Homo sapiens: one gene and its partner. The protein of the gene in region 1 binds, or shares a complex with, the protein of each later gene. Each region holds a gene or a part of one and is shown in the gene's direction. Other genes may lie near its edges.

Region 1 (6,243 bases):
GGATTGATCTGGGTGGGGAAAATTAATGGTGTAGGTGCCAAACACAGGGGCTAAGCTCCCTCTACCATCCACAGGCCTTGGACGATGCCAACAAGGGTATCATCAGAGAACTGAGGAAAACCAACTACGTGGAGAATCTCAAAGAAAAAAGCGAGGGAGGTGAGTTCCTGAAACTCTGAAAAGGCAACTTCAGCATTCTCCCTCTGCTTTCTTTTCCTCTAGTCCGAGACACATGCGACAGCAGCTCCCCAATCTGGGGGCTTGGCACTGCCCATCGTGCATTCTAATTTCAGTGCCACCAGCAGCCCTAGCCTATCTCTGGGGCAGTAGAGGGTGAGGATTCAGCCCACCATGGGCTGGACTGTCTGGCCCCAGAGCGCACTCATTTCTCTCTTCAATTGATTCATCAAGTATATGGTGAGCACTTGTCATGTACCTGGAAGGTGTTAGATTCTGGGGAGAGAGGCCCATCCCTGCCCTGGAGGAGCCCATGGCCCTTTGGGCAAGGCTGACCAGTGGAGTTGTCAGCTGCTGGGATCCTGCACACAGGTGCTACACCGAGGTGGAGGTGTGCTGCCATGAGGGTGCATGCAACGGGGCGTGGGCTCCTCTGGGGAGGCAGAGGAGGCTTCGACGAGGAAAAATCTTCTACCTCCAACTCCAAAAGATGCCCAGGAGTTTTCCAGGAGAGAAGTGGGAGAAGAAAGGCATTTTTCCAGCAGGGAACAGCAGGGCCAGAGGCACAGAGACAGAATAACAGTAGCTACACTTTGGGGGCTCTTACTGTGTGCTAGGCACTGGGTTAAGCACCAGACAGGAGTGATCTTGTTGGGTCTTTACCCCACTAGGAGGTGTAGGTGCTGTGGGGGGAAAGGGAGGCTGAGTGAGGTGAGTGCTCTGCCAGAGTCATGTAGCTAGGGAGGGGTGACTCGGGGCCCCACTCTCCCCACCTGCGGCGCTGCTCTCGGGCCAGCAGTGTGATGGGCAGGTGCAGAGGGGCATAAGGTGCAGAGGCTGCCTGACAGCTGTGCCTTACCACATTCTTTCTCACAAGGTCTCCAGGGAGTAAACAGGCCTTTGGCCCCCTGCCTTTGGGCTCTCCTTTCCTGCAGGGAGGGAGTGAGGGAAGGAGAAGCAGAAGATGGCTGAGCAGCCCTACCCCACTGGAGAGGGGCCTAGAGGAACAGGGGTGTTAAGCGCAGTAGCCGACCCCCATTCATGCTTCCCGCAGGCCAGGCATTCTTTCAAAGACTGTGTGCACGGACTCATCCTATCTGTATCTGTTCAGGAACACTATGAAGGAAGTGTTATTAGCTTGACTTTATGGAGGACATGGAGGCAGAGGGGTTAGAGGCTACAGTGGTTTTCAGTCTTGGGCAGTCTGCTCTAGAACCCACGCGTCGGCCCGTGCCACACTGTTTCTAGTGACACAGACAGCCTTTTCCTGCCCCAGTCTGTGGAGCTCTCACTCCAGCCAGACTGCAGTGAACAGAGCTGGGGCTGGAGGTCCGGGAGGACAGAGCCCAATGCAGATTCTTGGCTGCAGCCCTCCAGGCTGCAAGGCTGAAATCCTTTCTGGTCCAGGCAGGGCAGCGGGAGGTTTCTGGGCACCTGAGCAGCCAGATGACAGCCCTTTATTATCCAGCACCTGCTCTGTGGTGGCTGGACCCCCTCAGAGGGGCTCTGTCTCCGCCCCCACATGCCCTTTGAGCTGCTCTGAGAAGCCACAGGAGCAACAGCTGTGGAGAGAGACTCTGCGGGGAAGCAGCCAACACCCCAGTCTCCCTACCCTGGCCTGCGTCCTTGTGCCTGGAGAACTGCCGGGCACGTCCCTCTCAGAACAGCAGGTGGCAGCATTGCATCTGTTTTCACCACCAAAGGGCTGTGACCCCCTGAGACCTGAGACCCTCTGCAGATACCTCAGTAACTAGTGGTTTCCAGGAGGAGAATGTAAGGGAGACGCAGAAGGGGATGTAACTTTTCTCCATAACTGATAAAAAAAAAAATTTAGGAGCAAGGATCCCTTTGCTTGTAAAATAACTCTTCAGCTGAACTTTTTGTTAGCAGCGTATATCTTTATAGGAAACCTATCTTTTTCCTTATGTTTTTTCTATATTTTCATAGGAAACCTCCCAACAAATAATGAATGTGCTTCCCAGGGACAAAGAGAAAGTGTCAGAATGAAGATGCTGGAGAAAATCCTTCTGTCATTTTCCAGCACCTATGCTATTTCTTGCAGGGAAAAGAGGTGTTCTGGGGTCAGACTGTCCTGGGTTCAAATTCTGTCTCACTTGCACACTTGCAGTGTGACCATTGTGTGATTTCTTTTCTTTCTTTTTTTTTTTTTTTGAAACGGAGTCTTGTTCTGTCATCCAGGCTGGAATGCAGTGGTGCAATCTCAGCTCACTGCAACCTCCATCTCAGCCTCCCAAAGTGCTGGGATTACAGGCATGAGCCACTGTGCCTTTTTTTTTTTGAAATGGAGTCTCCCCTCTGTTACCCAGTCTGGAGTGCAGTGGCGCGATCTCAGCTCACTGCAACCTCCATCTCAGCCTCCCAAAGTGCTGGGATTACAGGCATGAGCCACTGTGCCTTTTTTTTTTTTTGAAATGGAGTCTCCCCTCTGTTACCCAGTCTGGAGTGCAGTGGCGCGATCTCGGCTCACTACAACCTCCGCCTCCTAGGTTCAAGTGATTCTCCTGCCTCAGCCTCCTGAGTAGCTGGGACTACAGTCTTGTGCCACCACTCCCGGTTAATTTTTTTTTTTTTTGAGATGGAGTTTTGCTCTTGTTGCCCAGGCTGGAGTACAATGGCACAATCTTGGCTCACTGCAACCTCCGCCTCCTGGGTTCAAGCGATTCTCCTGCCTCAGCCTCCCAAGTAGCTGGGATTACAGGCGCCTGCCACCATGCCCAGCTTATTTTTGTATTTTTAGTAGAGACGGGGTTTCACCTTGTTGGCCAGGCTGGTCTCAAACTCCTGACCTCAGGTGATCCACCTGCCTCGGCCTCCCAAAGTGCTGGGATTACAGGCGTGAGCCATGCCGCCCGGCCGTGTGATTTCTTTTCTATCGATCTCAGGTCCCTTGACTGCAAACTCAAATCAACGGCAGTGCGCATTTTCATGATGTCTGGATGGGATAAGCTATACAGCCCTCACGTGATGCACAGGACGGAGCTGGGCTCAGTCAATGATGGTTCCCTTTCTCTGCTTTTGGAAAGGTGTGCTGTCAACACCAATTTAAAGAGCTGGCAAAAACAGTCATTCTCAGGGCCTTTCTCTCATCGGCCTCTCAAAAGCACAGGCCTCCACAGAGATGAACAGTTTCTTTCTTTTTTTTCTTCTTTCTTTTTTGGAGACGGGTCTTGCTCTGTCACCCAGGCTGCAGTGCAGTGGCTGGATTTTGGCTCATCACAGCCCCAACCTCCTGGGCTCAAGCGATTCTTCTGCCTCAGCCTCCGGGTAGCTGGGACTACAGGCGCCAACCACCACGCCTGGCTAATTTTTGTATTTTTAGTACAGACAGGGTCTCACTGTGTCGCCCAGGCTGGTCTGGAACTCCTGGCCTCAAGGGATCTGCCTGCCTCAGCCTCCCAAAGTGCTGAGATTACAGGCGTGAGCCACCGCACCCGGCCTGACATGAACAAACTTTTATCTTTCTTCCCGCTTTTCTCTTATTTTTCAGAAGCTTCACTGTATGAAGATAGAATAATAACAAGAGAGAAGGACATGAGGAGAGTGAGAGATGAGCCCGAGAAGGTGGTGAAGCAGTGGGACCATAGTGAGGATGAGAAAGAGACAGATGAGGACGATGAGGCTTTTGGGGAAGCTCTGCAGAGCCCAGCAAGCGGAAAGCAGAGTGTGGAAGCAGGAAAAGCCAGAAGCGATTTGGGAGCAGTTGCCAAGGGCCTGTCAGGAGAATTAGGCACAAGATCAGGAGAAACAGGCAGGAAGCTACTAGAAGCTGGCAGAAGAGAGTCAAGAGAAATTTATAGGAGGCCTTCGGGAGAATTAGAGCAAAGACTCTCAGGAGAATTCAGCAGACAGGAACCAGAAGAACTAAAGAAACTTTCAGAAGTGGGCAGAAGAGAGCCAGAAGAACTGGGAAAAACACAATTTGGAGAAATAGGAGAAACGAAAAAAACAGGAAATGAGATGGAAAAGGAATATGAATGAAGCCATCGGTAGAGATGAGGATCAGGAAGCTGGTGTTCAGAGGGATCATGGGATTTTATTAAACTGGATTTTCAAGCGATTTGTCTGTTATAGGAAAAATGAGGGTTTTACTTCTGCTGCTTTCCATCACTATTTTGCCATTAAATAGGTGTCTTTCACTCTTGCAAACCCTGAGTCTGTCACTTTGCCTCTTCACCCCTGCCCATTCTTGGAAGAGCATCGTGGAAGAAATGAGAAAGGTGCCAAGAAGAAAGGGTTTCAGGAGGGTGAAGATACGGGCGCTACAGGGAACAAGAAGTCACAGGGAGGAGAGGGGAAGGCCTGGGAGGAGAGGTGCTTCCCACACACCGGTGACTGACTGAGTCCCTCCAGTGCGCAGGACAGCGGGGAGGCTTTATGGATGGAACAGTGGTGGGGCGGCCCCAGCTGTCACAGGTAGGAGAATGCCGCAAGCCAGAACCAAGCGAATGCTGGGAGTGAGGCCAAAGATAGGGGAGTGGCCTGGGAGTCGGGAGGGCAGACAGACTCCGCCTCTGACACCTCTGGGTGGCATAATCAGGTAAATCAGGCTCTCCAAGCTGGCTTCTCCTCTGAACAATGGGATACCTGCCTCAGGGGTTGCTGCGAGGACTGAGTGCTTAGCACAGCACTTGGACAGGAAACTCAAAAATCCAACGGAGCTCTCAGTGGTTTCACAGAGGAGGTGGCAGCTGAGGATCTGGCCTCAGAGGATGTTAGGATTTCACTCCGTTACTCATCTGTCCCTTTGGCCATTGCCATCCTGGTCTGTCTCCACAGCTCCTAGAAGGAAAGGTCGGGGCTGAGACTGACTTTCGGCTGGCACAGGGCCTGGACGAATGAGGCCAGTGAGGCATTTCAGATGCAGAGTTTACCGGAATGCCAGCAAATTGCATGATAATATTTTAATCCAATGTGGTAAAAAAAAAAGTTTTTAATTAATGCAAAAGTCCATGATGAATAAAATATCAAAAATTAAAGACAGGATCCGACTTTGCACGACCCTGCCTCACTCACTTCCTGCTAATCCACGGGACCGGGGAGGGTGACTGAGTTACCCCTCAACACGCAGAAAAAGCTAGTGGCCGCTCAGCTCGCAGGCGCAGTGGGTGGGTGCGCGTGGGGAGCAGGCGCGCGCAGGGGGCGGGACCGGGCCGAGGTTCCCGCGCGCGGCGAGAGTTTCGGGTTTTGGTTCGCAGCGCCTGCGCGCAGAGGAGACGGCCCGCCCCCAGCCCGCCCGGGTGCCCGCTCCGCCCCCCGGGCTATGTAAAGCGGCCGGGCTCGGGTCGTGCCACCGCTGGACTCCCGTGTCCCTCCGCGCAGGCGGGCGGCCCCGGAGCGCTGGTGCCGGCAGAGGCGGCGACGGTGGCGCCCCTCCTCATCATGGTGAGAGGCCGGGCGGGGCCGGGCACGGGGTAGCACCAGGGCGGGAAACGAGTGTCGGGGCCCCTCGGGAGGAAGCGTCTTGCAAACGAGGACCCGGGGCTCCGGGTTCGACTTCCAGTTTTCTTGGTACTCAGGGCGGCCCTGAGGTCTGGGAGAAGCGGAGGGGTTTTGGGGTGCCGGAGAGGCCGCTGTAAAGGGAAACGGTGGTGTTTCTCAGGAGGGAACTCGGGACCGCAGAAGCTGCTGCGCCTCTGGGAGCCTGGGTGGGCCTGGGCCGGGAGCCCGGGAGCTGCTCCCGACCCCACGCAGGCCCGCGCTGGGGCAGCCGCTTCGGCGCCCCCTCCCCGGGCCCAGTCTCATCACGCGGAACCGCTGCCCCGCGCCCGGGTGCGGGCGGGAGGTGGAGCCAGTTCAGAGGAGGGGACCCTTTACGGTAAAAGCTGCCGTCCCTTGTGGCTTCTAGAAGATAGGAAAACAAGTGGCTCCGAGAGGCGCTTCTGACACACAGCACAGCGGCGGGTAGAGCTGGATCCTAATTGCAGGTGCCCTGTGCTGCCCTGTTCTGGACAGGCACAAAGACCACGACTTTGTGGGGGCCGGGAGAGGGTAGAGGAGGAGGTGGCAGGCTTGGTGAAAGAGGGCCTTTGTCCAGTGCTCTCCTGC
Region 2 (8,576 bases), on another chromosome or scaffold:
TAAATTTGCAGATGAATCTTGGCTTTGCTTAGATCATCTGAAATATTGAGTAAACATAAAAAGATACAGTCATGCATTAGGTTGATATGAAATTGCAGTTTTTTTGTAGTCAAAATGGTCAACTGCTGACATTTTCATAAGGTCGGCCTCGTGAAAGGACAGTGAGAATATATGGATATCAACTTTAGTTTTGTTTTCAAGAATCACAAAGCTCAAAGGACTCTTAATAAATGAAGTCCAACATTCTCATTTTAAGTTTGCATTTGCAGGTTTGGGTGTAAATGAAATTTTTTGAAAAACCCCAAATATCAGTGGGATAAATGAGACAAGCTAATTTCACATGCCTGTTGAGGAGTGCCCACAGTAAGAGAGACACAGCCTCTTCTAGTTAATGTGACACTCTGAGGGGCCCAAAGTCCCAGTGAACCTCATAGTCTAACAGGGCTGCTAGGGCTCCAGCCTTTAAAAACAGGGACTGGTCAGAGAAGAGGCATTCAAGCCTGGCAGATGCCACATATTGGAAAACCATGGAAACCATGCTACTGGGTCTGGACTCCATCTTGCTGGCACTGGGAAGGCCTTTCAATGTTAAGCAGGAGGAAGAAATGGTCGGATCACTTTGGCAATCCAGCAGGCAGTTTTGAGGAGCACAAGATGGAAGACAGCAGGCAAATTCAGGAAACAGGCAGGAGCATAAAGGATGAACAAAGCAAGAGGTGCAGCACTGGAGGGGGGAGCAGCACTTGCACTTTCTAAGAAGTGTAGAGAAGAATGGATAGAGCTCATAAGATCATGGAAAGTTGATGACAGTCCAGATGATTTTGACTTTCTTCTGGCTATGAGTGAGTAGATTTGAGGAAATGGGTAGTTTTTTCTGGAGAATATCTACAGGACAAGCAATATTTTCAGGGGAGTAGCAGGTTCAGGGAAGAAAGGTGGAGAGTTGGCTTTGTGCAAAGATGGATCTGGTAAGGTAAACATTCACAGTTGAAATGAGTTTTGTTGGATATGAGTGAAAGGGGTTAGAGAGTGCAGGCTAATAAACAGAGTCTACTAAAGGGGTAACATGATTCAAGGTAGGCGATCTTGGGTGCTTCCTTTTCATTTAGGGAGCAAGAACTATGGAGTTGGGGGAAGTGGTTTAAACAATGGTGGCAAGTATCAGAAGTGATACCAGTTATTTTCTGGTTGACATTGGCTAAGAGGACCAGGCATTGCCTGGTGGGGTCTCTGGGTAGGTCAGGTCCTGTTCTGTGCTTAGTGATGCTCATGAATTCCCTGGTTAGGGCTCAAATGTTGCAAGATGCCCTGGGCTTGGTAAGAAAAAGGTGTGGGTATCTTCTGTCTCTGAGGCAGCTTTGCAGGTAGTACAGTTGCCATGACTCTGGCTACAGTGGCGCATGACCCAGTGCTGAGGGGATCAAGCCCAGCACATTCAGCAGGATTTCTTGGTCAGCTCTGCCAGGTCTCAAAGAGCCAGATTCTTTACCGAAAACTTCAGACCTGCTGACATTATGGCTATCATAATAATTAACTGTCACAGGCCACATCTTAATTTACAACTTTATAAATTACATGTTGAGATACAAGAATCCTATCCTTAGTAAACCTTAGGCATTTGTCTTACTGGCTGGTCACTTGATTACAGTAAAAAAAAAAAAAAAAAAAAAAGTCTAGAAATACGTCAACACCAGTGAATATCAAGTGTGAATTTTGGAGAAAGGTCAGTTTAAATGAAAGCTCTTCTATATTGCCCAGCTCCCTTTAAAGGCTCCATTGTGGTTACTGTACCAGGGACTCAGCCCCAGGGTGCTGCAGGGAAACCTGGGGTTCATTCCTGCTGGAGTGGTTCTCCTACCACTTTCCATCAATACAGACCACACAACATGGACCATGTGGTCAAATTTCAGAGGTACAGACAGATGATAAACAAACAAATGCAGAGATACAGCGAGTGAAATAGACTTAAATATATGGAGAGAGAGAGAGAGATCATGTGATTTAGTCTGGTGGGAAGGAGAGGTTAGAAAAAAACAATTGTTTCACACAGTAGCAAGTGCTAAAAAAATAGTATCAAGGAAGAGAATGGCTGGGTGGAGAAGGGTTCACTTCACTTCACGTAGGGTGTCAGAAAGAGCTCTTTGAAGAGTTGCCACTGGGAGTGGTTGGGGTGAAAAATATGCAGAAGTTGTGCATAAGACAGTGTTCTGTGGGTCTGAATACTGAGACTCTAGCTTGTCACCACAACCCTACAGCAAAGGGGAGAGTGACAAGTGGTAGAGATTTGGAGATTCGACCACCCAAACAACTGGTCACACATATAACTCTTATTTTTGTTATCGCTGTCTCCACAAAATAAAATTAGTAAAGTTGAATTTCTATTATGCAGGTAACTAACCTATTTCCCTTTTATTCAAGCAATTTTATAATAGATTTGTGATATACTTGGAGATCAATTCTATGATGTCATTTCCTCAACAGTTTCCAAAGGCCTTCATCATAAAAGGTCCACATTAAGGAAAACAATTTCATCAAGTCAAGGTCCAAGCTGTTTATCATGGCAACAATCCAGTGAATGCTGAGTCAAAGGGAAGATTGTTTTGCACACAAAACTAAAGGAAACATAGCATTAATAGTCACTTTAATGTACTTCTGTGTTTACAAAGTTATTCATCTTGAGGTTGCTTGGATTTTTGGAAAGTTCTATGATCATTTCATGCACAGTAAAATTTATGTCCAATACGAATTAAACACAATCCTTTATTATTCCATTATTGATTGATTTAATATGAAGTAGCCTCTTAGGCTTAATTGCCTTACTCTGAGAAAGCTCTTGGGGGAAAGCAGTCCTGTGTCTACTCAGCATAAGCAACTAAAACTACAAATAGAAACTTCAACTTGCTTTGAAATGTTATTCACTGACTCAATCAGGCCTGCAACTTGTTTCTAAAGTCTAAAAATATTAAGTTCCAAAACTTCACAAGAATGTAATGAAAGCTCTGAAGTTTACCCGTATGTTGACAAAACATACTCCAAATAAACATTGTGCTTTCCCTGAAAAAGATGATAAGACCTTATTGTAAGGTCAACTCTGCAAATCACTCTCTTAGATAAGTGAGATTCACAAAACAATGCATTTGCATAGATAGATAGAAAGATAGATAGATAGATGATAGATAGATAGATAGATAGATAGATAGATAGATAGATAGATTGGTTGATTTTTTTGGCTAAAAGAACTGCATGGAAGAAAGAACTGGAGGATAAAAGAAGTGGAAGAGGAGGAGGTGACTTACAAAGTTTGCTCAACAGGTTAAGGAGTTTTGGCCCGGCATATTTTAATTTCAACAATCTGTGATATTGCCCCTACATCTTTTTATTATTTTTTTAACTTTAAGGGAACATGGCTGATGGGCTCTAGGCCTTAAACTCGTGAAGGAATAACTAATTAGCTTACCTATAGCAAGCACCCGGTGTATGCGATCTCCCCAGGCCACCAGAAATAACCACCAATGTGCTCACCAACAGCGCAGGCCTGCTCCCCAACACAGGCCTAGTACATCAGGTGGGGAGCCCACAGCGTCTCTTAGTAATTACTGACAACCACTCTTTCGGTTCCTTGTCTCTTGAAGTGAGCAGTGCAGCAATCTCTAGGAATTAAGTATTTGCTACAGCTCTGTGATCCAACAGAAATCAATAAGGTGTCACAGGTAAGTATAATTCAAATATGTCCAGTCTTTCCCTTTTGTTCTCTATGGTCTCAGGAATTTCACTCTTCTAGACAAGGGGATATGTAGAAACACTATTTAAAAATACTACTGTTACAAACTCATAATCACCATCAATTCATATCGGGTAACTGTTGTTAGGACATTTGCTTTAGGATAACACAGTCCATGCCTTTACCAAGCACCCTTTGCTCTAGTTTCAAACAGCATCCCAATCCTTCATTCCACAAACAAATGAAACAGTAAAGAAAAACCAGAGGCCTCGACATTGGAATTATTTCATTTGGGATTATTACTCATGGTTAGTAGAATTTTTCTGCCTTCAGTCTAAAAATGCCAGTATGTGTACAATAACATAGTTTGTCATTTTCCCCTCTGAAGTTAAACGAGCAGGCACTCTGGAGAATACTGTAGATTTGGTGATCCTGGCTGAGCCACCCCTTTTTATTGCTGCCTTAGCTGAAAGAGGATATCCCCTCTGTGATCAGGAAAAGCAGAAAGTCCTCCCACCCTGAAGATGTAAGGAATATCCTTTGTCTGCCGGCACAGAACTTGTCTTTCAAATAAGTAAAGGACCAAGGTTGCTGAGATATTTTCCGGAAAAGCAAGATTGGGCTGTACCCCACACCCAAGTGGTGTTGTCAGCCCGTTTTCATTGGGGGGAATGCCTATTTAAGCAGTATAAAAATTCCTCGTGGCTTTCCTCAGATTCCACAGACAACCTCCATCTTTTGGAAGTGAGATGAGGGCAGTGGGAAAAGAAAAAAACTACAGTCACAAGCCACATAGCGCCATTTAAGTCAACATCAGACAACATTAGGACAGTGGTCCCATAAGATGTAACACTGTACTGGAACACTGCACCTTCCCCAGAGTGCTTAGCACTCTGTTTTAGCTGCCTGCAGCATTCCGCGCTGTGACCTGCTGTGCAGGGGTGCAGCCCAGAAGCAATGGGTTGTACCATACAGCCTGGCGTGCAGTAGGCAAGGCCATCTAGGTTTGTGTCGGTGCACCGTGATGTGCACACAGTGATGAAATCTCCTAGTGACCTCGGAACGCGTCCCGCTCCTTAGGCAACCCGTGGCTGTATTCCAATTTCCCCTTGCTCTCAGAAACACAACTAAAAGCTCGAAGACCTCAGGTGACAGACTGCCTCCTGTTACCTCACCAAGACTGAAAACCTAAGCAGTGGCTCCGCCCAAAGAGCAAGCTTCTAGCCCTCTGACGGGAGGCCCGGCAAGATCGTCCTCTGGACAGCACCTTGCTATTTTGTGACGCTGCTCCAGCCCCCAAGATGTCCAAGATCTTGGGCCTTCCCTTGAGGCGTGACGCTCACGACCCGAAACACCTCTCATACAGCGTGCACACCACATTTCAGATTTTAATGATTTACACTGCAATCAAGCAAAGAGGCTGCGAACTCAAAAGCCAGCAACAACTGAACATTTAAACTCCAACGTCAACAGTCAGAATACAGCCCTCAAGGCGGCCAGCTGGGACCCTGCCGGCGGCACCGCGCACCGAGAACCCAGCGCGAGCAGTCGCTGAGCCGATGGGCGGGGCCCAGCTGTAGCTTTGGCTACGTCGCGGGCAGCCTGGGAGCCAATCCGCGGCGGGCTGAGCCGTTGCCTTGGCTACACCGTCTGTTAGGGCCGCGCACGAGATCAGTAACTGAGACCTCACCGCGTTGACCCAGCACCAGGGCTCGCGGGGGTCCCGCGAGGGTCTCGGTAGCCGCGCGCCCAGAGACCCCCGCCGCGGCCCGATTCTCTGAGCGCCAGACATGAACCGCAAGAAACTGCAGAAGCTGACGGACACCTTAACCAAAAATTGCAAGCATTGTAAGTAAGAATGTAGTGCTGGACAGGCCGAGGCTCCTGGACCGAGCCTGGGTCCCACCCCGTGCTAAGGTCCGCTGTTGTGCCTGCTTCCCGCCTGCTGGGACTCTGTGGGCTACCTACCGCCCCTCCACCCCGGCCCCTTAAGCAGAAGTCAGAGAGGGAATCCCGGGGTGCCAGCTCCTTGCGTTTGATCTTAGGAACCCAGGCCTCCGCCTCTGGTGCTACCTACACTCCCACACATGCATTTACTTGCTTCTCCAACCCTCTTCTTTTACCTGATAGAAACATGTGATGTTAGCCTCAATGAGGTGTAAAATAAATGCTAAAACCAACTGGTCTCAAGAAAAGTAGCACCACCAAGGTAGACCGTGCACTCACCCTGCTTTATAGCTCGCACATACACCCGCAGGTCCAAGTTCTGGAAGCTTACCAAGAGACCCATAGGAGAAAACGGTGCTCAACTTCTCAACATCTTTCGGAGAGATGAGTTGTGTCATCTCATCTGTGCCTCAGAACAATATTTGTTTGGAAACCAGAGTTCAGCACAACTAAACACGTGGTAAAGAATGGGTTCCCAACTTTAGACTCCCACTTTCCAGTGGCCCCTGGTGTTGAAAGATAAAGGAGACTTTGCAGGTGACAAGATGAGCCCTATTTGAAGGCACCTGCTCTAATCTCGCATTTGAAAGGGTGGTCCTAGAATTTCATAGGAAACTTTGAGTTTATATTCAGACTGAAAAACATAATTGCACTTTAGCAAGGAAGCCGTGGGTATGGTTTAGATGAGGAAGATAATTTCCTGTCGAGCAAACTTAGAAGTTGTGTGTGCTAATTGCAAAACTACTGGCCACTTGAAGAAACAGAAGCAACAATCCCCCAAATAACCGAGTCGCTCAAAAAAGAAGGAATAAACATGTTGATGTAGTTTTAGAGATTGTAAGATCTAGTGCATTCTAATTATCATTAGTATCTGATTTAATACCTGGTAAGAAATGCTCTCTTAGTGGATGGTGATATAAATGAATATTATGGTGTGTGTACGCATCTTAAAATGTTTAGGAAAAAAATCCTGTAATTTAAGATATTATTATGACTACTATACTCTGATGAGGGTTTTGTTCTGTTATTGTTTTTCTTAAAACACTTTCATTTCTGGGAGAATAGGTATTCTTCTAGTAAACATCTAGTAAACATTTTTGATAAATATTCAAAAACAATGCAATAGCTGCTATACACAATACTGATTTTGTCCCTTTCCGTAAGTTTGAATTTGATTTAGTCTCTGTTCGGTAAGTTTGAATGCATTGCAGACAATCATTCTGTGAACAATCAAAAGGTGAGTGTATATTTTTAAAGGTAAGTAAAAATATGGCAGGAAAAAGTCTGCTCTTGATTTTTTTGTTTACTAAAAAATTTTCAATGAGTCTTACAAACTTAGATGATTATTAGTTAAAGTCTATAGAAATAGTTATACGTCATGGACATTATAATAATTTTAAATTTTCTTTAACGGAAGAACTTTCCCCTAAAGTTAAATTTTGTTTTAGTTGCAAGACAATAAAGCTATCAAGATTCAATGGATAAATTTTGTAGAATCAAAGAAGAGTGAAAGATCTTAAGAGAACATCTAGTTCATGCACTGTTCTACAGATATGTTCTGCAGGACACATTCACAGCATTCCAAGAAGATGAAAACCTATTCTTGAATTTTCTTGTTTCATTTAGTATTGTATTCTAGAATTTAAGAAATGTTTAGCAATAAAAGTTTTCTTATGGCTAACCTTTGATCCTTTGGGTAATAAATTAAACTAGTTTTTAAAAATTTTTATTTCAGCTGAGATGGAAAAATGGCTAACCAACATCCCCTCTGCTACCATTTTATGTACATGAACAGAGTACATCATTCTTCATGCAGGCTTTTCTTCCGCAACAACTAACAGCTCTTGCTTTTTAGGAGGTTTGTGTGTGTGTGTGTATGTGGTTACATATAACATGAAATTTACTATTTTAACCATTTTAAGTGCTTAATTTCATGGCATTAAGTACATTCACACTGTTCTGCTTGCAACACCACCATCCACCTCCGTAACTTGTTCATTGTTCCCAGTGGAAACTCTACCCATTAAATGTTAACTCACCATTCCCTCCTCATCCTAGTCCCTGGCAACTATCATTCTACTTTGTCTCTATAAATCTGACTAAGTACCTTATATAAGAGGAATCATACAATATGTGTCCTTTTGTGTCTGGCTTATTTGACTAAGTGCAATATCCATAAATGTTCATCTATGTGTCAGAATTTTCTTCCTTTTTAAGGCTGAATGATATTTCATTGTATGAATACACCACATTTTGTCTATCCATTCCTCCATTGATGGACTCTTGCATCTGTCTTTTGACTGTTGTGAATGATGACACTATGAACATTGTTGTACAGGTTCCTGCTTTCAGTTCTTCTGAGTATGTAAATAGAAGTAGAATTCCTGGATCACGCAATAATTGTGTTTAATTTTTATGAGGAGCTATCATACTGTTTTCCACAGTGACTAACAGCTGTTTTTGAAATCATAACCATTATATTGTTTCCTACTATTTATTTGCTGAATCTTTTTTCCCAGACTTTTTAGTGTTTCTCTTTAAATGTGGTTTTCCAAACCAGAAATCCCACAAATGCCTGTACTGACCTCTAGGATGAGGTGTGATTTTTCCATTCCTAGATGCTGTCTTCTGTTATACACACACAGGTTTTGTCCTTGTTTGTTAAAATGCTCAATCACAGTTTTGACTGGTTTCAAAATAAATTTTCCCCAACTTCCGCCCATACTTGGTATTTGAGCTTTTATATTATCAAGACCAGGCAATAACCCTTCCACCTACATTCTCAAATGGGGATTGGAACACAAATAATTAACTCGGTATTTATAACCATGGTCCTTTATACAATAATGTGTATGAGCAAGTATCTGTTTGTGTGTATATCCTTTAAATAAAAATTTCCTTCCTCCAA

Evidence for each region.
Region 2: ODAD4 (region 1) and CLXN share a complex: the UniProt entries of both Homo sapiens proteins name them as parts of the outer dynein arm-docking complex.

What each region holds. Positions count from the first base shown.
Region 1 is NC_000017.11:41,961,308-41,967,550, forward strand, and holds the end of ODAD4 (outer dynein arm-docking complex subunit 4), read left to right. Parts: intron 1-74; coding exon 75-159; intron 160-3,685; coding exon 3,686-4,176; 3' UTR 4,177-5,196; downstream 5,197-6,243. Other genes in the region: CNP (2',3'-cyclic-nucleotide 3'-phosphodiesterase), read left to right, coding at 5,578-5,580. UniProt on the Homo sapiens protein: Component of the outer dynein arm-docking complex (ODA-DC) that mediates outer dynein arms (ODA) binding onto the doublet microtubule. Plays an essential role for the assembly of ODA-DC and for the docking of ODA in ciliary axoneme.
Region 2 is NC_000008.11:48,732,087-48,740,662, reverse strand, and holds the start of CLXN (calaxin), read left to right. Parts: upstream 1-5,394; 5' UTR 5,395-5,511; coding exon 5,512-5,569; intron 5,570-5,978; exon of another isoform or gene 5,979-6,128; intron 6,129-7,403; exon of another isoform or gene 7,404-7,526; intron 7,527-8,576. UniProt on the Homo sapiens protein: Component of the outer dynein arm-docking complex (ODA-DC) that mediates outer dynein arms (ODA) binding onto the doublet microtubule. Seems to regulate the assembly of both ODAs and their axonemal docking complex onto ciliary microtubules.